Linked DNA regions of Homo sapiens. The protein of the gene in region 7 purifies or fractionates together with the protein of the main gene of each other region. This does not show direct contact. Each region holds a gene or a part of one and is shown on either strand. Other genes may lie near its edges.

Region 1 (3,500 bases), on a different chromosome or scaffold from region 7:
GTATCCACAAAAATTAAAAATAACTTTAAAAAATTAAATAAAGAACCATGCCTACAGCTCTATAAAAATAATGAACCATTAGAATAAGAGTCCAAGATTTTATAAATAAATAGAACTTAAATATCTGTCCCTTTTTTTAGGACAAAAAGGACAGCGTCCTCTAAATTATTCAACTATTTAGAAAAGAAAAGATTAAAAATAATGTCAAATTGTCATTGATATTCTGATTTTTACCTCTATTAGAGTTCTACCTGTTAGACAACCAAAGAAATGTATTTGACAGCACTTTGCAAAATACATAAAAATGTACAATTTGTCACTGAAGCATTATCATTTACATCGTTATAAAGATGCCAACTATGTTTAAAAGTATTTACCATGCTTTGAAAGCTCTTTCTCCAAATTTTTGGAGACTGGCACACTTGAGTCTCTGTTTGGCAGACGAAGCCTTCCCTTCATCCCGAAGTTCATCGAGCTACAAAAAGGAATAATTTGATGAAAATTAGAAGAAAAATTCTACATGAAACACCCCTCCATAAGCTCAGATGAGACTGTGCCAAATTAAATTTTGAAGGCATAATTTATGCCTAAATTCCCAAGTACTCCCTTTAGCGAATAATGATTTTGCTCTCTAAGAAAAGGAAAGATCATTCGATCATTCTGGTCACAGCGGAATTCCCTATGTAGTTAGAAACCAACTGGAAACATTGCCAGGAAAAAGAGCCTTAAAAGTGGGAGAAAAGTCAGAGAAAGAGTACGCTAATATCCCAGGGGCTGCAATTTTGCTAATTTTTAAATTTTGTGTATAATTCATTTCAGTCTCTCCTCCACCAACATCAGTAAACTCCTCAGAAAAGAAAATAAAGCATTCCATAATATATATTTATGGAATGAATGCATGAACTCAGGCATCTAGATGCAGTAAAATTCTCTACTTTGAATTCCCTCCCTACTAAAAATTATCATGAAAAGATAAACAAGAACTGTGGCCCCTTGCTGTGCAATTTGACAAACAAGTTTCAGTATTTCACTATAGTGATCACCACCATAAAAAGTGGTGAAATCTTTAAACACATGCACAGTGATTACCTCTGACAGATCATCATTGGCAAATCTTAAAAGAAGAAACGAGAGTGTAGGCCTTCAAAGATGAAAGATTTTCAAGACAGATAAAAGGAAGGCTTTTTTGACCATGTCGGAAAGTTTGTATCAGACACTCAGGTTCCCTAAATCTAGCCACAAAATGGACAAAATCAGGTTGGATAATGAACTCTTTTTTTCTATTCTTTTGCATAATACCTTTGGCAACAGGCAGGCAGCTTTATCAGCAGCTTGGCAACATTCTGTAAAAGCAGCTTTATACCTTTTAGCAAAGAAAAGGAGTTCCGGGGCATAAAAGTAAGGATGTCTTCTGGCAATTTCATATAAGTATCTAAATTTTGAAAAAGAAAAACAGTCACTTTTCTATAGCAGACAATATTACAGAAATAATTGTAATCGACATTCTCCCCAGAACCTCCAAATTCCAAAGATATCTAATTAACCAATTAAGCTCAATTTGCACATGATGGTCTTGTCTCTGTCATTCTTTAAGTATGTGGAAAAAAGGGTTAAGTGTGTGTGTGTGTGTGTGTGTGTGCATAAATGGTTAAATTTTGGCAATATAATGTTGCTGACTAAAACGAAATCAATTATAACAACCATATATACATATCTTCGTAATACATTAAATAATTTGTCTATCTTAAATTTTTCAGAAAGATTGTATCCTGTTTCAATAAACTTCAAAATATCTTTGATCATATTTTTTGCTGTGTAGAATTTTGTGGTATCAAATACTACTTCTTTAAAAAATCATCATAACAAAACTTCCAAGTCTTAATGTTGAAAATATTTTTGTTATGGTAATTTTTATAGAGTGTTGGCCTATGGAGTTACTCCATGCTTTTTAATTTTGAACTATAAACATCTGATTACTTACTTTTTCAAAAATGTCTCTTCATTGTCATGAAAAGCAGTGCACATCACATCAACCTCTGGTCTCACCAATCGGGGGAGGTTTGGGTTGTCATCTTTGTGTTGCAAGAAGCATTCATTTCTCTCAGGTTCTTGTTTTGCACAGCAGTCAGCCATTTCACCATAGGTTTCACGAAGAGTTGCAACTGTGCATAATTTGTCTCCAAAAAGGGTATGCTAAATGGAAGAAAGCAGGTTTCAGTTGCTGGACAGTACCTTTTTTCTTTATAGCCAAAGAACAGTACAAAGGATTTAATATACTGGTTAAGCTTGGTCAGGAAATCATTTAAAAATCCGCTTCCCCTCCCAATCGAGGTTTACAGTTTCTGATGATTTAACCATCTCTATATAATTTTCATAAGAATTAACTGTCACACTATAACTCATGGTGAATAAAACAGGACAAAAAGACAGTCAATAGCTTTAAGGAAAGTTATATGACTCCTATTTTGAAACTTAAAACTAAAGGGTAAGAGCAATCATTATAACAGAAATCAAGAGAAAATAAGCTTCTAAGCAGCAGGTGAATTCACCTAGGGGAGAAAAACATTCAGAGAGTTTCTCATTTCATTTGCCCCCTTTTTAGAGGGCCATGTTTTAGTATATGCCATTGAAAACTGAGGAGTAACACAATCCATCATATATTAAGTGACTATTAAGATATAGACATTTTTCTTCCAGAAATGTTACCTAAAATCACTTTCCAATAAATGAGTCCTTTCCTTATCTCTAATTTTTATTATGAAAGTAACTGTAACCCCAGGGAAAATATACTACTCTAGACAGAATTTATTAATTTTTATGTATTTTTAAGATTTCATATGTAGAGCCATAGTATTGTGTAAAGTTAAAGTCCTGACTCTGCTGTGAGGGAGAGGTACATAATAAAAAGGGGAAAGGCTCCAGTGATAAAAACTGGCCTTGCCCACAAGAGGTATATATAGATTGAGTGGTGAGAGAAAGATAAACCTGTCCTTGTTTTGAAGATTGATCTGGAAATACTAAAAGTTTAAAGTTCTTCAACATGACTAAGTACTCTGCTTTTTTATTGTATGTAGAAATACAAAGATATCTAAAATGAGGAATATATAGCTGTACTATTATTCCACCCAGGTAACAAAATTAGCATAGAAATCAGTGGGTGTTTTCTGATGATAAAAACCATGATATCATCTCTAAGAGATAGTAGCTCTCCTGTGTTCATTGCAACACTATTCATGATAGTCAAGATGTAGAAAACCAACCTAAATGTCTATCAATCAACAAATTAATGGATAAAGAAAATGTGGTACACACATGCACTGGAATATTATTCAGCCTTGAAAAGAAGGAAATTCTGCAATAGGCAACAACATGGTTGGACTTTGAATGCACTATGCTAAGGGAAATAAGTCAGTCATAAAAAGATAAACAGTACATAATACCACTTATATAAGGTAGCTAAAGTAGTCAAACTCATAGAATCAAAGAGTATAATGCTGGTT
Region 2 (3,500 bases), on a different chromosome or scaffold from region 7:
ATCTTGATATTGTTTATCATGGCTACCTTGGTCCTTTATATATGTATAAATCCAACATCTGGTCACTCTCACAGACAGCTTCTGTGGCCTGCTTTTATTCCAGTGTATGAGCCTACTTTTCTTTTTCTTTGAGTGCTTCATAATTTTTTGTTGGAATTATGCCTTCATAATTTTTTTGACATTTTAGATAATACATTTTAGCAATTCTGGGTACTGTCCCCAACCCTGGGGCTTGTCATTGTTAATATGCTTATTTGTTTAGCAACTGGGTAGATTGTTTTGATAAAGTATATTTCCCCTGCCACAGTGTTCAGCCTGTGATGTTGCTGGTGGGGGGTGGCACCCAGCCACTCTGGATGACAGTGGTTTTAGTGAGGTCCTTTTCCTCTTTCCCTGACCACATCCAGCTGTTGAACTTCGCTAATGCCAGGTTATTGTGCTGTTCTCAGCAACAGCCTGGGCATAAGTTGCTCTACAAACTAATCCAATCAAATTGTGGCTTCTTCGAAGGGATACTTTCTAAGGTCAGTGTTTGGTTAGTTTGTTCTGTGTCCAAGAGGCCTCCTCCCAGCCGTGTTAGTCTCTGGTTCTCTTCTGCGAACTGGTTGGCCTACAATTTGGCCTATTGCTTGATTCTCCACTGCCTCCACCCCCTTCGTCACAGCATCCACGGTACTTGAACAGCTCCCTTAGGCCGGAACTTCTCCACATTCCATGGCAGGGAATTTGGTGCCTTTGGGCAGGTGTAAGAGCTGTCTGTTTAGTTGCCTGCCTCTCATCCCAGGCAGAGCCTCTGAGCCAGGGCCTGCAGCTGAGGACAGTAATGGGCTCCTCTCTGAATAGGGGCTGGGGGAGCTAGCAGCAGCCTGAGATCCTCCAAATGTGTCTTCCCCAGCCTGGAACCACCTCATATCTAGGACGGGGTTGATGGGGCCCCAGTCTTCTCCGTTCACTGGGCGGAGCCTCTTGCAGAGGCTTAAACCGTACTGGTAGAATGGAGCCAAGGTGAAGCCTTCATTCTACAAATAGGGTCTGAGCAGAAAGGAGGGCCCCTCTTCTCAATCCTACTCACTCAGGACCTGGTCTCAGTCACAGGTGGGATGAGAGCAGAAAGGGAAGCACTGCTATCCTGCCTCTCCTGGGAAGACACCCCGCTGCCTGGGAGCTGGGGAGGTGGCCCTGTGTTCTTGGCTGCAGCAGGATGGAGCTCAAGTGCCACAGACTCTCCGTGTCCTTACCAAATGTATGTAGGTGTTCTGGAGCAAGTGTTTCTTCATTTGCTGGGTGCCCATAGGACCATTTCCAAAGGCTCTCTAAATGGCTGTTTTGGGACTGCTCATTACTCTCTGAGAAGGTCAGTGAAGCTCCTCGAGCCATCATGTTGAAGTCAGTCTCGGCCAGCCCTTTTGGAGAAACCATGTTTGTGCTTCTGACATACCAGTTATTAAACAATCTACTGGAATGAGGAGAATCTCAATGATGAGAAAGTCTTTCCTTTTTTGGACTGTGGGAGCAGTCCAAGCTGCCCAGCTGCAGAGCAGGAATCTGCAAGTGAGACTGTGACCAATTCTTGACATTTTGGAGTTGACACCTTGGAGGTGGTTAATCCATGACGAAACTGAAGCTAAGCCGATCTCATGTTTTGACTCCTGTCAATCCGGAGAGGACAGCAAATGGCCTGCTCAGGTGTCTGTTAACAGCCAGCGCTTCCAGGCCCACCAGATCCTCAGGTGTCTGTTAACAGCCAGCGCTTCCAGCCCAGCAGATCATCTGGCTTTTCTCTGCAGAAGGGGCCAAAAGGTCCACCTGATGAACCTGTTGCACGCGAAAAGTTCAGAACCACTGCTGCCAAGATGCTGACAGAAGCCTTGAGAAGCACCTGCTGCGGGAAAAGACGTGCAGGCGTAGAACACAGAGCGGGTGGCAGCTTCTTCAGTTCAATCCCCACCTCAGGCAGTTGTTGGGGGTCATATCTAGGGTGAGCTGTGGTGATGGAATAGAGATTTGGAAGCCAGGCATCACTCGTATAACCTCATAAGCTCCTTACCCAAGTTGTCCTCATCTGAAATGGGTGTGCCACTCCTTTAAAGCTGTTCAGGCACCGAGCTGGGCTCCCCACACAGCATACTCCAGCACAGAGCAGCAAAGCGCCCGGAGGAGGGCTCACAGCAGGGAGGAGAGGTGGGGCAGTGGCTTTCTAGGTCAGAGATGTCTTTTCCCTACGAGGCACGTGATGGCGTTTTAGGGAGATGGGCTTGTTTAAGACCCAGTGGGAGGATTTTGATGAGAGATGTTTATGGCAACTCTTAGCAAGTTCTGTAACCTCTGTTGCCTCAGTCCCCTTGGTGTAACTGTGACCATGACGTCTGCCGGGGCTCTCAGCAAAGCCCTGCCCTTGTGAGAGGACGGAGGCGCAGCCCCCGGTGTGCTGTGGTAGCAGGCACTTCACCCAGCCTGTGGGCAACTGGCGTGTCCTGTGTACAGCAGGCGGGCGTCCTGGCCTCCGGTGGGCTGCTGCCTGCTCTTCTCCCTCCTGTTTCAGACACACACTCTGACTGCCACAGTATCACAGGACCTTGGAGCTGCCACCCCACAGGGTTTCTGGAGCTGTCTTGGGCTACGGGGTGCATGGCTGAGACAGATTATTTCTTTTTTTTTTTTTTTTTGAGACGGAGTCTTGCTCTGTCACCCAGGCTGGAGTGCGGTGGCGCAATCTCGGCTCACTGCAAGCTCCGCCTCCTGGGTTCACGCCATTCTCCTGCCTCAGCCTCCCAAGTAGCTGGGACTACAGGCGCCCACCACCACGCCCGGCTAATTTTTTGTATTTTTAGTAGAGACGGGGTTTCACTGTGTTAGCCGGGATGGTCTCGATCTCCTGACCTTGTGATCCACCTGCCTCAGCCTCCCAAAGTGCTGGGATTACAGCCGTGAGCCACCGCGCCCAGCCGAGACAGATTATTTCTGTGTTTTATTTTTTTGTTTTTTTCCTTTTTTTATTTCTCTTATCTGCTGTTGGGCAGGGCACTCTTCATCCGTCCCCTTCTGGGTTCCAGTTCTAGGGCCTGTTGGCAGCAGCTCTTGGGCCTTTCCCGGCCATGTCAACCTGCATTGCTCCTGTTTGTTGCTTCTACTACTCACACTCATTCCTTTCGAGTTTTCTAAGTGCAGTGTGGTATTGTGGACTGGATTCTGGAACAGAAAAACGGTTCATGGAGAAACCGATAAAATACAAATAAAATCTATAGTTTAGTGAAGAGTACCGTAATGTCACTAATTTCTTAATGTTGACAATGTCCTGTAGTTGTTTAACATTAGTGGAAGCTGAGTGAAGGCTACATGGCAACTCCCTGTACTATTTTATTATTATTATTTTTTCAGAGACACTGTCTCACTCTGTCACCCAGGTGGAGTGCAGTGGTGCAGTCATAGCTCACTACAGCCTCAGACTCCTGGGATCAAGTGATCCTCTCACCTCAGCCTCCCACATAGCTGGGACTACA
Region 3 (2,281 bases), on a different chromosome or scaffold from region 7:
TCTTACCGGTGCCAGTCAGTACTCCAGGGATGGGAGGCACAAGTTGTGATTGGGCAAAGTTTATTTTCTATGTCAGCCTGTCAGTCCACTGCCCCATTTTGCAAGACTTTTTTTTAGCCTTGACAAAATGTCTCAGTTAAGTATAAAAGTTTTTCCACTACTTAGTCCAAAAAAAACTATTAAATCTTAATGAAATAGCCACTCTCCATTAAGAATCTGATAACTAAGAGTTGACAATACTAGGAAACAAAATGTCTTCAGTATCTAAAGACACTGAATTCCCACCATTTCCTTTTCTGTAAATTAAACAGAAACAGACTGATAAGAAGCTGGCCTTTCAGCCTGCTTCACCCAAGTTATGGAGGAGGTTAAGTCTACATTTCCACCACTGAGCACAATACAAATGTTCTTTACTTCTGGGGAAACAGTTTGAAAATGTTGAGACAGCACAGCAGCCACTCCAACACCAGCTGTAGGTTCAATGAGTAGTTTCATCCTCTCCCACACCAGCTGGGTTGCACACTGTTGATATGGAAGGGAGTAGGAATTAGTGAAAGGGGAGTCTAGTTGGTTTACCTATAAAGTTCAGATGAGAATACGTGTCCAGTTTGAATTTTCTTATCACTGTGTACACACGCTTCCCAAAGCTTTTCTTTAATTCTGACTCTGCTTCTGTCAAGAGGGTTGTCATTAATACATCTAGGGTACCCTCCCATGTCATGAAGTTACCTAGTCAGGTTCCCGTGGGTCACTTGCTACTCCTAAGGGAAGTTTCTTCTGCCTAAGAAGTTACACCATGCTTTGCTATTTCTTTTCTTGCTGGAGCCTCACCTTAATTTCATCCTCTGTGACAGTGAAGATATCATCCACAAGGTCCCTGATAATAGGCCAGGTGTTCAAGCCAATGCTGGATTTGACACCATCTGCTATGGTTTCTGGAGGATAAAGATTGGGCATCAGTTTCCCCTTCAGCTTGGACTGGTAGCAGTCATCTGCATTTGAGGGTTCAGCAGCATATACCTTCACACTAGGTTTCAGAGCCTGGGAAGAGGAATATTAAGACATCTTAACAACAAACCACAACATTGCCTGCATGTCTAAAAGAAAATATGGGCCTGGTGTGGTGGCTCACACCTGTAATCCCAACACTTTGGGAGCCCGAGGCGGGTGGATCAGCTGAGGTCAGGAGTTCAAGACCAGCCTGGCCAACCTGGTGAAATGCAGTGTCAACTAAAAATAGGAAAATCAGCCAGGCGTGGTGGCAGACCCCTGTAATCCCAGCTACTCAAGAGGCTGAGGTAGGAGAATCACTTGAACTTGGGAGGGGTAGGTTGCAGTGAGCTGAGATCACACCAAAATGGGGTGGGGCGCAGTGGCTCACGCCTGTAATCCCAGCACTTTGGGAGGCCGAGGTGGGCGGATCACGAGGTAGGGAGATCAAGACCATCCTGGCTAACACGGTGAAACCCCGTCTCTACTAAAAATACAAAAAAAAAAAACAAAAAAAAACTAGCCAGGCATGGTGGCAGGCACCTGTAGTCCCAGCTACTCGGGAGGCAGAGGCAGGAGAATGGCGTGAACCTGGGAGGTGGAGCTTGCAGTGAGCCAAGATCGTGCCACTGCACTCCAGCCTGGGTGACAGAGTGAGACTCCGTCTCAAAAAAAAAAAGAAAATAGGCACAATAAGTAATACATTTCTGCCCAAGTAAGAGCCTTCCCTTTTGTGGATGTAATGAAAATATCTTCAAGCACTTTATAAATAAATTATATGTCTGATACTAGCCTTCCATTGCCTGGATCACATCTGATTGTCCTGGTAATTTGAGAAAAGGGTAGCCCCTTGGTATGGATAGTAGCTTGATGACATGGAATTCAGGGAAAAGACTATGATGGTGTCACTTGTAACTGCTTTTGTGCTGTAAAATTGTCATGGATTAAGAAGAGAGTTGGCTGGGTGCGGTGGCTCACACCTGTAATCCTAGCACTTTGGGAGGCCAAAGTAAGGACTGCTTGAGCCCAGGAGTTCCAGACCAACCTGGCCAACACAGCAAGACCCCATCTCTTAAAAAAAATAAAAATATTAGAAATAATAAATAGGCCGGGCGCAGTGGCTCACGCCTGTAATCCCAACACTTTGGGAGGCCAAGGCGGGTGGATCGCAAGGTCAGGAGTTCAAGACCAGCCTGACCAACATGGTGAAACCCTGTCTCTACTAAAAAAAATACAAAAAAATTAGCGGGGTGTGGTGGCTCATGCCTGTAATCCCAGCTACTCAGGAGGC
Region 4 (3,237 bases), on a different chromosome or scaffold from region 7:
CTTTTACATCAAGTGGAAATGGGGGAAATCCTTTTAAGCATTCTGTCTGGTGAACCTCACCTGCAGAGGCTGTATGGCAGGATGAGGGCTGCGGACACTGGAGGCGTATTTGTAGGGGGCAACAGCCCGGGGAGCAGCAGCAGCAACAGCAGCGCGTGGCGCTAAGTTCTGCACAGCTGTGGGAACGCCTTAGGGAAAGAACAAATACAATTAAAGCCCATCAGTCTGGGCAAAGACCCGTCAAATCCCATCTTTCCCCCTTCTGTGTGCATCCAATACCACCTCCAGACTGGCAGCTGTCAGTCAGCCCTTGCTGGGCGGCACCAGCCCCACCAAAGTCCATAGCCAAGCGGTCCGGGCACTCAGACCCTACAACAGACCAGCAAATGCACATCAGTGTTGGCGGCAGATGTCCAACTGGCCACGTCCCACGGAAGGAGAAATTTCAAAGCACGTTTACGCAACACATTGCACAGGGGGCCACTACTACTTTCGAGGATGAGCCAAAGGATAACATACAACTCTTTCCACATCTTGGAATACAAGACATATTCTGTATACACTGTTTCCTTGTATTCCTCACCCCACCCAAAAGAACAAGCTGCCTCTGTGGTCATCCAGCTAGCAAACTTCTACAACTAACCTTTTTCACATAGGTCACCGATGAGCAAAGAATGTTAAAAGCAACTGACACACCTAGAACTCATACTGTTTCTCTGCTCCTGAAGTGGCCACCTAAGCACACAGCTAAGATTACAGAACCAGGACTCGATAAATTCGAGCCCAACAAACTGACCAACCCAGGACAGAGCCTAGTCATCCTGACTCCCTCCTCCCCAGGCCACACTTCTAAAGGCCAGTTTGCTCACCGACTCTCTGAGTGGTAGTAGGGAGGCCACGAGAGGCCGGAGCATTACCAGTTGGAGCCAGATGGCGAAGAGTTGGACGAGGCCCAGACTGGCGTATAGCACTTGGCATTCCTTGGAAGCCTGGTGAAGAGAAAAATTGCACATCATTGAGAAGTGATGTGGACCAGAACCTAGGCTGTGCCTCAGAGTGGGGAAGAAGGAAAGGCAGGGGAGACCAGGACAGGTATATCCTGGGCTGTCAATTACTGTTCCCCACCACCTACCTTGAGGTCTCCCACCTTGCTGCCAGCGTGGATTAGGCCTCATCTGTGCTAACTGGTTAGGTGTATAATATGGAGGCCTTCCCTGAGCCTGTAAGACAGAAGAATACCCAAACACCCCCTTAAGGACTGAACCCATCCTAGAGAAGTATCTCATCTCATCTCACTAACCAGGACCTAAGCTAATTATTTAAATGTTCTTTCTATTCAAGAGCTGAGGGGTCAGCTAATGGGGACTGTTTTATGCTACCACTGCCACTGTGGGTGTGTGTTTGTGACCATGGGTAAGTCCTTCATTTTTACTTGAAGGGTCCTTATTGTGACATTCTAGAACTCTAATAACGAAAAATCCCTCTCCCCAACCACTGCAGAATACTGCCAGCCGGCAGGTTCCCAAGAGCTGTGACCAAACAGCACACCCACCTGTGGGACTGCTGGCACAAAGTAGCCACCCGCTGCAGGCTGGAACTGATTTAAGATGGCATTGGCAGGAAGTGCTCTCATTCCAGCCACTCGTTGCATATACTGGTTGGTCAGGTGAGCCTTTCTCTCTTCCTTCCTCTGGGCCAGGGCAACATATAGTGGCTTGGAGCCCACAATGCGTCCATTCATCTCAGTGACTGCTTTGGTTGCTTCTTCAGGAGATGAGAAGCAGACGAAGCCAAACCCTTTGCTTCTTCCATCCTCCAGCATTACCTACAAAATGAGACCAGCTACTTAAGAAATAAGGTGTCCCTGGCTGGGTGTGATGGCTTGTGCCTGTAATCCCAGCACTTTGGAAGGCTGAGGTGGGAGGGCTGCTTGAGCTCAGGAGGTTGAGACCAGCTTGAGCAATGTAGTGAGACCTCATCTCAAAAAAACAAAGGGCCAGGCGCAGTGGCTCATGCCTGTAATCCCAGCACTTTGGGAGGCCGAGGTGGGTGGATCACGAGGTCAGGAATTCAAGACCATCCTGACCAACATGGTGCAACCCCGTCTCTACTAAAAATACAAAAATCAGCTGGGCGTGGTGGCACACACCTGTAATCCTAGCTACTCAGGAGGCTGAGGCAGGAGAACCGCTTCAACCCGGGAGACAGAGATTGCAGTGAGCCGAGATCGCGCCACTGCACTCCAGCCTGGGCGACAGAGCGAGACTCCATCTCCAAAACAAAACAAAACAAAACAAAACAAAACAAAACAAAAACACCAACCAACCAAACCAACAAAAAAAACAAAACAAACCTACAAATAGGAAAAAAAAGGATGTCCCTGGGTGGGGAGGGAACTATTCAGAAGAACCAGAAAGCCTGGGTTCTGCTGCAGTCACTGAGTCTAGGTCAGGGTTCTGGCACAGGATTTACCCCAGACCAACTAAGTCACAACCTCTAAGGTATCTAGGTGTTTTCTTTGAGTCCCCAGGTGATGCTAAAGTTCTGAAACACTATGATATGGCTAATAATAAAACCAGGAACTCAAAGATGTTTCCTGATACCTGGTGGATAGCTACTCCGGGTAACCACAAAACATCTTGAGAGTAGTACTGAGCAATTTATTTTCATATCTCATATGCTTCAAGACCTCGGTGGACAAACTCTAACAAGCTCTTACCAACGTCAGGATAACACTTTTGGAATACCACGTGTGGACAGGAGTCCTAAAATGTTCAGGTAACCAATGACTGCCACCATTAATTCAATGAGATGACCAGCTCAGAGATAGGCAGCCTAGATTCTAGTCTCACTTGCCTTCCTGAGGCTCAATTTCCAAGAAATACTCCAAACAGCTACAAAACCACAGGTCTACTGGTTCAGGCAGTCTTTTCCCACATTAAGTTCATCATTCACAAATGGCATTCTTCCTAATAGACAAGGTTATTCACTGTCTTCTCTGGTGTGACTGTCATTGTTTTATGTCTTAGTTAATGGCCCAGAGAGCCTCCTGAAGTGGAGGATAGGGAAGTAAAGAAGTGCATCACTCCATAACTCTCTACCAATGAGATGGGCCAGTAAGGTATGTGAATAAAAATGCCACACCATCATAATGAAAATGGGGACAATTCAAGGTATGGCTCTTCTGCTCTCTTAACAAATGCCAACTTGACTACTAGGCAGATAAGCAAGGATAGA
Region 5 (3,500 bases), on a different chromosome or scaffold from region 7:
GGCTGAGGCAGGAGAATCATGTCCAGAGGGTGGAGGATGCAGTGAGCAGAGATCACACCATTGCACTCCAGCCTAGGCACCTAGAGCAAAACTCCATCTCAAAAAAAACAAAATAAAAACTATCCACAAAAAAACAAGTCATATTCTTTATATCTATAAATATCAGTTTTATTAACGTAATAGGTCACAGAAGCTTTCACTTGGGATTAGAGTTATTTCTTATGACACAGCAGAGCTTCTTTAACGTATTATATTTTCAGTATAGAGAAAGGTAGAAAAGGGGGGCTGAGAAGAAACTAAAAACCAATAAAAACCAAGATTGACTGTCCTTGCAGAGATCATCAGGGAAACCTATCAGTGGCTGTTAACAGCCATCTGGGAGATAAACACAAACAACTAAAAACAAAGACTTTTAGAAAGCCTGAAGCTTCTATCAGGATGATTTGAGAGTAATCTTGGAAGTGGTAGGAATACTGGAACTGGAAATGAATAAACCAAAACCTACTAATGAACTTTATCGTATACCATGATTAGAAAAAAGCTATGAGAAAAAGCAGGAAGTCCAATATACCAATCAGGGTCCGTTAAACTCAATTTTAGCTTTTCCATTTCTTTTATAAACAGATCTAACTATTCAAAGGGATCAATATCTCATGACTTATATTCTTCCTTACGACATATTCCAAAAAACAAGAAAGTTTACTTCTCTAAGACTAGAACAGAACTCACCCTTATTCTGTAATTATTATATGTATCCACTGGGCCCTTTTATAAATGTAAGGTAGAATCTAGTGATCTTATTTTTCCTATATCTTGAAACACTTTACAATTTCATCAACATTCATCAGTTATTCTCAGCTATGCTTTAAATAAAGACTAAAATGGAACAGAGGAATGATGGCATCACCTAGAGGATACAACAGTGAAATAAACTGTTAATGTTCATACAGTTTCCTTACTGCATAGCCTGAGGTATCACATCTCTTTCAAAACAGTTCAAAAAGACCAAAGACACCATCCTTGTAGTCTGCTTTTAGCTACCGTTGACCAGTTGATAATTATGAATTTTTTTCACTCATAATTGCGAAGAGAAGAAAAATTTACAGAGGAAGGCCTTTCTAATTATTAGAGATATCAGACAACAGATGCAAAGAGTACTGATAAATGTGAAATTATCTTACAAAGCAAAACCTCAGACTATGAAGTCTGAGATGGTGACATCTTAGATGAATGTTCTCAATGTATTTCTCAAACGATGTATTTCTCAAACGATGTATTTCTCAAACATTGTTCTCAAACAATGTATTTCTAAGGAGAAGAGGGAAAGATGATGTGTATTCTCATCCAGTTAATGACTCAACTGAGACTCCATCATGCAAAATCCTCCAACAAGAACCCAGATCATCCTGGTTTGCTAAAAGGGTATATGACAGTATTCTTCCATCTTTTAAGATGTTTGTGGTCAGGCACGGTGGCTTACACCTATAATCCCAAAACTTTGGGGAGCCAAAGCAGGTCGACTGCTTGAGAGCTCAGGAGTTCAAGACCACCCTGGACAACATGATGAAACCCCATCTCTATCAAAAATACAAAAGAAATTAGCCAGGTGTCGTAGCGTGCACCTGTGGTGCCACCTACATGGAAGGCTAGGGTGGAAGGATTGCTGGAGCCTGGGAAGTTGAGACTGCAGTGAGCCAAGATTGTACCACTACACTCAACCCTGGGTGACAGAACGAGACCCTGTCCAGGGGGAAAAAAAAGGTAAAATAAAAATTGAAGATAAAATTTTAAGAAATGTTTGTGTGCCAAAATGTACTTCGTAAGTGGAAATGTCAAAAGCAGATGTGTATACAAAGGTAACTCGAAAAAGAAAGATAATGAAATGCAAAAATATTCAATAGATTAGTCAATCCAACTGACTAAATGTGCTAAAATTACAGCACAGAGATGGCTATCCCTTCTTCAATAGAATGAGATGTCATTAAAAGTTCCAAAGTATTCAAGGACTGCATTCTGATGATCCAACTGTAAGAATAACCAGAATAAGCTAGAATTTATTAGAGATATATTTTAAATCTGCTATCAATATTTATAAGATTGGTATGTTCTAGGTTCATGTATAACAGTGAGCAGTTAGTTACATTTAGAGAACTGCATTCATTGTAGATACATATATCATCAAAACCTGGAAAATATGAAAAAGTTAGATTTGCTATGTTTAAACCCTCACTAAAATGTCTAATAAGGCCATGCGTGGTGGGGCTCACGCCCGTAATCCGAGTACTCTGGGAGGCTGAGGTGGGCAGATCACTTTGGCTCCAGAGTTCGAGACCAGCCTGGACAACATGGTGAAACACCATCACTATGCAAAATACAAAAGTTAGCCAGGCATGGTGGCATGTGCCTGTAATCTCAGCTACTTGGGGGCCTGGGGTAGGGTGGAAGGATCTCTTGAGCCCAGGAAGTCAAGGCTGCAGTGAGTTGTGTTTGCTTCACTATACTCCAGCATGGAGTCAATAATGGCCTTTAAAAAAGTCTAATAATGGGGGGCACAGTGGCTCATGCCTGTAATCCCAGCACTTTTGGAGGCTGAGGCAGGAGGACTGCTTGAGCCCAGGAGTTTGAGACCAACCTGGACAACACAGGAAGATTTCGTCTCTATAAAAAAAATTTTTTTTTAATTAGCCAGGTGTGGTTGGTGCATGCCTCTAGTCCCAGCTACTTGGGAGGCTGAGGAAGGAGGATCACTTGAGACTGGGAGGTCAAGGCTGCAGTGAGCCATGATCATGCCACTATACTCTAAACTGGGTGACAGAGCGAGACCCTGTCTCAAAAAAAAAAAAGGTCCAATAACGACCTTACTACCCTTTCATTCTTTCTGCTACAAAATTATTTGGTAAACGATCAGTGATGACTGTTTTCCCAAGTATACTGAGGGTTACAAAAAGAATATTCTAGGCCGGGCGCGGTGGCTCACGCCTGTAATCCCAGCACTTTGGGAGGCCGAGGTGGGTGGATCACCTGAGGTCAGGAGTTCGAGACCAGCCTCAACATGGAGAAACCCTGTCTCTACTAAAAATACAAAATTAGCCAGGCGTGGTGGTGCATGCCTGTAATCCCAGCTACTCGGGAGGCTGAGGTAGGAGAATTGCTTGAACCTGGGAGGCGGAGGCTGCGGTGAGCTGAGATCGCGCCATTGCCCTCCAGCCTAGGCAACAAGAGCGAAACTGCATCTCAAAAAAAAAAAGAATATCCTAACAACCAAAAGAAGGTGCCCATTCGAGTAACTATCTCAGAGAGGCAGTTCGAATATCTCTTGTTAATGTGGGTAAATCAAGCCTCATTTGCTGAAAATGTTATGTCTTAAAACTACCTAACCCCCTTATTCTATTTTCACCAAAGCATAATCATTCATGAATCTGGCTTTCTAAATAAACCATCTCAACTGCCTGGAGGCTTTTCTCACTGAACGATGAAATGCTGAACTCCATTTTAAACTT
Region 6 (3,500 bases), on a different chromosome or scaffold from region 7:
TTATTGTTGTGGATAGCTGTCAGCCTTTATTTTTATGTTTAGGTTCATTTTTCCTCTTGATGACTTTTTAAGTTTTTCTTAAGTCTTGCATTTTAAATAATGTATTATAATATAATAAGCCTTTTTTATTTAGAACTGAGAATTTCAGAAGACATAGTTTAGACATAATTCTAAAATTTAGTGCAGATTTCTCCATCTTAGAAGTACTTGTGGAGGGCTTTTATAACGAGACTTGGGTTTATTTAACGTCGAGCTTCAAAAATATATATATTTTTGCAATTTTTAGGTTTTATATTATACAAATTTAAAGAGAGATGGTAATATTAATTTCTCCCTTCTTTAGCAGTTGTATCTATTTCTTAGCCTTATGCGTCTTAGAGGTAACTTGTTTTTTTAACAGTCAATTTTGTAAGCAGGAAGAAGCTTTTATTTCTTTACTTATGTCTAGGTTCCTTTGGTATCATCCACAAGTGAGGGGTACACAGCATCTCAACCCTTGTACCAGCCTTCTCATGCTACAGAGCAACGACCACAGAAGGAACCAATTGATCAGATTCAGGCAAGTTCTGTTACCGGGTCACATACATTTGATGAGGCACTTACTCATGAATTGAACAGATGTACATTACCATTAATATAATGATTCTTCTTTTTGGACCTACTTTGCTTTCATGAAATATTTGAGTTTGTTAATACATATAAGTTTGAGATTAATTTACCACTTTAGTACATCTGTTCACTTTTTGTTTGGCTAAGTTTAGTTTACCGCTAAAGTGCATCTATTCACTTTGTGTTTAGGCAACAATCTCTTTAAATACAGACCAGACTACAGCATCATCATCCCTTCCTGCTGCGTCTCAGCCTCAAGTATTTCAGGCTGGGACAAGCAAACCTTTACATAGCAGTGGAATCAATGTAAATGCAGCTCCATTCCAATCCATGCAAACGGTAAGCAAATTAACTAACATTAATTGCCTAGTATGTAATATGAATCATGGTAGATTTTCTTTTCTTTTTTAAAGGTCTTCATTTAACTGTGCTTGAGTCTGCATCTTTCATTAACTGTAGGGTATATTTAATTGAACATAAACTGATTATTCCAGAGATTAACTGATACTAACGGATATTCTAGAGATAAATTTTAGCCTTATGAGTGATGTGCCTGTATCATCTTAATTTGTAGTTTTACCCTTTTGATTTGATTAACAAAAGCTTAAACATTCAGAGAAATAGACTAATATAACATCCATATAATCATTACCTAGATTTAATAGTTGCCCTGTTTGCTTAATCTTTTATTTTACTGAAGTATTTTGAAGTTTCAGATGTTATGCTTTACCTTGATTCTTGAGCAAGCACCTTTAGAGAATTTCTAGAAAATAATAATAATACTATAATCTGTGGGGTGCAGCTAAATCGGTGCTGAGAGGAAAGTTCATAAGATTAAATATTAAAATAACTTTTGATTAATATGTTAATAAAAATGAAAAAACATTCAACCCTGTTAAAGTTCATAGAACAAACTTCTGTAAGTGGTACTGCATCCAGGAGTTTGTCTTATTTATTTATTTTTTGAGACAAAGTCTTGCTCCGTCGCCCAGGCTGGAGTGTAGTGGCGTGATCTCAGCTCACTGCAATATCCGCCTCCTGGGTTCAAGCGATTCTCATGCCTCAGCCTTTGGAGTAGCTGACACTCCAGGCATAAGCCACCATGCCCAGCTAATTTTTGTATTTTTAGTAGAGACGGGGTTTCACCATGTTGGCCAGGCTGGTCTTGAACTTTTGGCTTCAGATGATCTGCCTGCCTCAGCCTCCCAAAGTGCTGGGATTACAGGTGTGAGCCACTGTGCCAGGCCAGAGTTTGTCTTTTAAAAAGATTTCTCATATATGTAAAAGCATTTCCAAGGCTGCTGATTGCATGTCTTTTTATTTTTTTTAATTCCCTACTTCCATTTCACAGCATATTATACTCCCCTTTAAGTACTATATGGTATATATGTCTTTTTCCACATTGAATCACTTGGAGGGATTTTTGTATGTGTGTGTGATGTTTTTGTGTTTGAGACCTCTGTGATGTCTTTATTTATGTCTGAGGTAAAACCACCATTGAGTTTGGCCATGTTATAAACCAGAGAATAAAAGGATGAACTAATCATTTACTTTATTTACTAACAGGTGTTCAATATGAATGCCCCAGTTCCTCCTGTTAATGAACCAGAAACTTTAAAACAGCAAAATCAGTACCAGGCCAGTTATAACCAGAGCTTTTCTAGTCAGCCTCACCAAGTAGAACAAACAGAGCTTCAGCAAGAACAGCTTCAAACAGGTACGAAATCCAGTGTCACCTCATTGGCTCCTTGCTTTCCAGCACAGTTATTGACAGTGTTAGGACAGTTTAGACTTCAGAGTGGTGGTGTCCAAGAGTTTCTGTTTTAGTAGCAGACCATATGAATTTTTCATTTCAGATCATGAGTTAAATTGAGTCTGTACTTGTATATGTGAATTATGTGCAATTTTTGGAGGCTTTATAGCCATTTTCCTTTTGTCACTGAACTTACATAATATCCCTGTTGCATTGTATAATTTATATGGAATTAAATTTGTTACTTGAATTACCATAAAGTGTACTTTTTTTTTTTTTTTTGAGATGGGGTCTCACTCTGTCACCCAGGCTGGAGCGCAGTGCCGTGATCTCGGCTTACTGCAACCTCTGCCTCCTGGACACAAGCAATCCTCCCTACCTCAGCCTCCCAAGTAGCTTGGGAATACACGCATGTGCCACCACGTCCAGCTAATTTTTTGTATTTTTGGTAAAGTTGGGGTTTCACCATGTTGCCCAGGCTTGTCTTGAACTTCTGAGCTCACGTGATCTGCCCACCTCAGCCTCCCAAAGTGCTGGAATTAAAGGCGTGAGCCATTGCACCTGGTGATAAACTATACTTTTAATTGTTAATTGATTGAAGGCTTTTAGCATGATATCTGGCATTGAGTCAGTTAGACAAAGTTAAGAAAAAACTCATGGTGGCTGCATTTCGTGGACTGGGTTGAAACATAATCTATTTTGTCAAGTAAGGTCATAATTTGGCTAGTTACCATACCTGTCACGATAGTAATGTAGGTAGGGACGCTTTTATGTATTTGAGACAGGTTCTCACTTTGTTGCCCGGGCTGGAGTGCAGTGATGCCAGCATAACTCACTGCAGCCTCAAACTCCTGGGCTCAATGATCCTCCTCCCTCAGCCTCCTGAGTAGTTGGTAGTTGGGACTACAGGTGCTTACCGCCATGGCTGGCTAATTTTTTTTTTTTTTTTGTAGAGATAGGGTCTCCAGGAGCTCACTATGATGCCAGGCTGATCTCCAACTCCTTGCCTTGAGCGAACTTATTGTCTCTGTCTCCCAGAGTGGTGGGATTATGGGCATGAACTACCTTGTCTAGCTCGATAGAGATACTTTAGATTTTTTTTTATATATATATTTTTTTAAGAAATGGGGTCTCTGTC
Region 7 (3,500 bases):
CACTGAGCATGGCTAAGTGCAGGAAGTAGATCATGGAAACGACAATCGGCCTTTAGCACTGGGTAGTGACCCCTGCAGATCTGAGCAGCCTCAGCATCAAACGGAGAGACCATGTGGTCTGTACACACGATATTCCACTCCTAATCAGACGATTCTGTCGGCAGCTGTGATTGTCAGGGTCACGGGCGGTGTTGGAGGGGTATGCAACTATGATTGGGGTTAGCACAAGGGAGGCCTTGGTGGTAATGAAATAGTTCAGGATCTTCACTGAGATAATAATGGTTACACAATCCACAAATGTGATAAAGGGGCACAGAGCTGTATGAGCAGATGGTACCAATGCCAATTTCCTGGTTTCATCATGCTGTACTGTAGTTACGTAAGATGTAACCACTGGGGAAAACCAGATGAAGGGTACACAGAACCCCTTTACTATCTTTGCAACATCCTGTTCATCTATAAAAAGTTAAAGAAAAAACCCTCATGACTATTAATCAAGGGCTGCAGATGTTTCTTAGATATAAATACATTCAGATCATCCAGTTCAATAGAGAGACGAAAAAATACACAAGCAACACAACATCTATGCTCCAGATGCTCAAGCTCTTTCTTAATTCAGCCTCCAGCCAATAAGGAAGTCAAGTCGTTCTTCAGGCTGGCCTGGACACCTGGTCACATGCTTGTCAACCCCTAACAGCTCACCTCTGACTACAGGTAAGGTAAAGAAGTTTTGAAATTTAAACCATTATTTTCCACAAAATAGCAACAGCCAATCATTTTCCCACAAAGTTACGATACAGCATCAACCACTGGTGTCTCTGGTGAAGCTCAACAGAAGCTGCTAAGGCCTAACTAACCCCCTTCAATGTAGATTTTTTGTTAAATGAGAAAGAGTTCATTAACTTCGGCAGGACTGCTGTATTATCGGAGAAAGGCTGATTTTGGAATTGGACGGACACAGATTTAAAAGCCCACGTGTGCCATTTTGGAGCATTCTAACAATTCTCTCTGTGCCTCAGTTTCCTCACTGCTACAGAGGAGATACTGATATTTACATGACGGGATTGCTGTGAGGATGAAATGAGAAAAATCCAGCACAGGGTTTGGCACACAGGTGCTTAATAAAATTGGAATTCTACGATGGCAGTCAGGAGCTGTAGAAATTAAAATCAGTAGGCTTCCCTTATTGCAAGGGTGATGCTGTTACCCAAGCCAAGAACATGGTTAACGCCAACGTTCTGGAACTCTGGATGCTGAAGACAGATCAGCATCGGCACCTAACTAGAGCACCCACAGAGCTACTGCTACCTTAGTGGCCCGCACTACCACGGTTTCCAGGACTCTGGAGGGAGGTGACCTCCAGCAACACCTTGGCCTCTGCAATGCCAAATATAAATCCAGACCGACGGAGCTATGAGAGTCAAGCGAAGCAACAACATACAACATTCCCGCCAACTGAGGATGGGAGCCGAAAGAGGTTGTATTTTCAAACAAATCTGATCAAAGTCCTCCTGCCTTTGACTATAAGGGCTGTTGTAACTAACAAGGTTAAGGTTTCTTAGCAATAGTCTACTCAAGGAAGGTACCGGTATACCTCAATAAAAGCAAACTTAACATATGAACATCCACAAGGATGTCAAAGATAAATGTAGAGGTCATTTTGCTTTATAGAAAGATACTCTGTTTGTCTTAAATGTGATTACATTTAAATAGATTCTGTTTTCTGCACACATGCAGGCATGTCAAAAGGAAAATACTGCCTAGACGCGACCTCCTCAGTGTGGCACACAGGTCAGCAGCAGTATCACCTGGGGGCTCCTCGGATGGGGATGTACAGGCTCTCAGCCCCCGCCCAGGCTTCCTGAGTTGGAATCTGCAGTTTGACAGGGAAGACCTGTACACACGGCAGGACTTGAGGAGCTCTGTCCTCAGGGTTACTCACGACCCGGAAGCCAGAAGCTCTCAGTACAGCTGCATGGCAGGCTATCCCCGTGTTCTCAACCCTCGCTCCTTACTGAACGTCAGAATAACTGCTGCAACAATTGGGGAGGAATTAAAAAAAAATTTTTTTTAAATTTTTCTCCTTTTGTAATATAGATACCTGGACCCTGACCGAAGATTTAATTTAATCGGTCTTGGGCAGAACCCTGGCATTAGCATTTGTTTAAAGCTCATTAGGCAATGCCAGGACGACCTTGTTGAGAACTATGGCTACAGACGGAGAGCAGGGCCTGGTAGAAGACCACCTCACCAACAGGTAGGACCTAAATTTATCACTGGAAGAAAACACTGAACTGGAAGAGAGAGAGAGATGTGACTAATGGAAATCTCACACAAAACACGATGTTGCATCAAGGTTGATCATCTCTACACACACTGGACCAAAAGAGATTTTCCTGGGGCTAGCATTAGGGAACTGCTTTTGAAGCTCCTCAAACACAGGTGGATGTCTCACTTTAACATGACTTAGCTACCAAAGAGTCAAGTAACACCACACAGTGTTGAAAACCTCAAGGCACCCAACACCCAATAAATTCTCAAACAGAAATCTGCCAGAGGATCAGAAACCTCTGATCTCTTACAACTAAGAGCTTTCTGCACCAAACACATAAATTCTCTTAAAGTTCTACAAAAGCCCACAAGTAACATTTCCCTCCCTGATCTGTTCAACTGTACATTTTCATAGAGGGTGTCCGGGAGGGCAAAGGCTGGGGGTGGTGGGTGAGCAGCAGGCAGAAGAGAGGATCAACGTGCAGGGATGTGGAAACGCCAGTACAGAAGGCACGTGAGCCCCACGGGGCTGGGGAGATGGGGGTTATCTCAAGGTATGGGAGGGACGTGGAGTTGATACAAAGGCTCAGGGTGTGATCGTGGGGTGGGGGCAGCTGTTGGGCAGAGCAAAGGAGATGGAGTTCAAGAGGCGCGGGACTGGAATTCTAGTTCTTCCTGAGGACACGGAGACGACTGAGAGAGTCAAGGAAGAGGGGTTGGAGAGGAGGCTGGGATAAGCCAGAGGCCATGTCCTTGGTGAACAAGGAAGAGTGGCGTAGTCCAGGTCTCACGGTGAGCACTGAGGGCAGAGGTACAACCAGAAGCCAGCCTGTCTGACCATGGCTCTTTCCAGCAGCCCCTTGTGAAGGAGCAGCCGGCACGGCCGGATGTCAGAGCGGCTCCTCCCTAGTGACCACTGCCTATCCCGTGACTCAGCATAGTCCGCGCAGGCACCAAAGCCAGGTATCCTTTCCCAGCCTGCTGCTTCCATCTGCTGAGGGTGCAGGGGCAGACAGGGGCTAAAAGACCCAGGAATTCAGTCCCAATCTGCACAGGGAATCATCTAATGAGACTTCTAACCACTGGTAATTCTGGACTCCCTAAAAATTATTACTATTAAGAAACAAACCACCACCCTAGAAATAAAGATTTCTGTCAGTCTGGAAAAATGCCAGGAATCAATAAACCAAGTCTTCTTTTTTGTTCTATGGTCACCAAGGGCCCTGGCT

Evidence for each region.
Region 1: the proteins of PINX1 (region 7) and ALB purify together in Homo sapiens (affinity purification with mass spectrometry; 2 studies listed by BioGRID and IntAct, with this or other methods). This does not show direct contact.
Region 2: the proteins of PINX1 (region 7) and C1orf174 purify together in Homo sapiens (co-immunoprecipitation; one large-scale study listed by IntAct). This does not show direct contact.
Region 3: the proteins of PINX1 (region 7) and TSR1 purify together in Homo sapiens (co-immunoprecipitation; one large-scale study listed by IntAct). This does not show direct contact.
Region 4: the proteins of PINX1 (region 7) and PABPC4 purify together in Homo sapiens (affinity purification with mass spectrometry; one large-scale study listed by BioGRID and IntAct). This does not show direct contact.
Region 5: the proteins of PINX1 (region 7) and FXR1 purify together in Homo sapiens (affinity purification with mass spectrometry; 2 studies listed by BioGRID and IntAct, with this or other methods). This does not show direct contact.
Region 6: the proteins of PINX1 (region 7) and CAPRIN1 purify together in Homo sapiens (affinity purification with mass spectrometry; one large-scale study listed by BioGRID and IntAct). This does not show direct contact.

The regions. Positions count from the first base shown.
Region 1 is NC_000004.12:73,407,287-73,410,786, reverse strand, and holds part of ALB (albumin preproprotein), read right to left. Parts: intron 2,194-3,500; coding exon 1,982-2,193; intron 1,433-1,981; coding exon 1,300-1,432; intron 476-1,299; coding exon 378-475; intron 1-377. UniProt on the Homo sapiens protein: Binds water, Ca(2+), Na(+), K(+), fatty acids, hormones, bilirubin and drugs. Its main function is the regulation of the colloidal osmotic pressure of blood. Major zinc transporter in plasma, typically binds about 80% of all plasma zinc.
Region 2 is NC_000001.11:3,893,773-3,897,272, reverse strand, and holds part of C1orf174 (UPF0688 protein C1orf174), read left to right. Parts: exon of another isoform or gene 1-1,978; intron 1,979-3,500.
Region 3 is NC_000017.11:2,321,896-2,324,176, reverse strand, and holds the end of TSR1 (pre-rRNA-processing protein TSR1 homolog), read left to right. Parts: 3' UTR 1-303; coding exon of another isoform or gene 304-522; 3' UTR 523-831; coding exon of another isoform or gene 832-1,041; 3' UTR 1,042-1,781; downstream 1,782-2,281. Other genes in the region: SRR (serine racemase), read right to left, coding at 304-522, 832-1,041. UniProt on the Homo sapiens protein: Required during maturation of the 40S ribosomal subunit in the nucleolus.
Region 4 is NC_000001.11:39,563,554-39,566,790, forward strand, and holds part of PABPC4 (polyadenylate-binding protein 4), read right to left. Parts: intron 1,826-3,237; coding exon 1,553-1,825; exon of another isoform or gene 1,517-1,552; intron 1,221-1,516; coding exon 1,133-1,220; intron 990-1,132; coding exon 870-989; intron 370-869; coding exon 283-369; intron 189-282; coding exon 61-188; intron 1-60.
Region 5 is NC_000003.12:180,943,670-180,947,169, reverse strand, and holds part of FXR1 (RNA-binding protein FXR1), read right to left. Parts: intron 1-3,500. UniProt on the Homo sapiens protein: mRNA-binding protein that acts as a regulator of mRNAs translation and/or stability, and which is required for various processes, such as neurogenesis, muscle development and spermatogenesis.
Region 6 is NC_000011.10:34,089,731-34,093,230, forward strand, and holds part of CAPRIN1 (caprin-1), read left to right. Parts: intron 1-448; coding exon 449-559; intron 560-798; coding exon 799-948; intron 949-2,175; coding exon 2,176-2,326; intron 2,327-3,500. UniProt on the Homo sapiens protein: mRNA-binding protein that acts as a regulator of mRNAs transport, translation and/or stability, and which is involved in neurogenesis, synaptic plasticity in neurons and cell proliferation and migration in multiple cell types.
Region 7 is NC_000008.11:10,815,876-10,819,375, forward strand, and holds part of PINX1 (PIN2/TERF1-interacting telomerase inhibitor 1), read right to left. Parts: intron 1-3,500. UniProt on the Homo sapiens protein: Microtubule-binding protein essential for faithful chromosome segregation. Mediates TRF1 and TERT accumulation in nucleolus and enhances TRF1 binding to telomeres. Inhibits telomerase activity. May inhibit cell proliferation and act as tumor suppressor.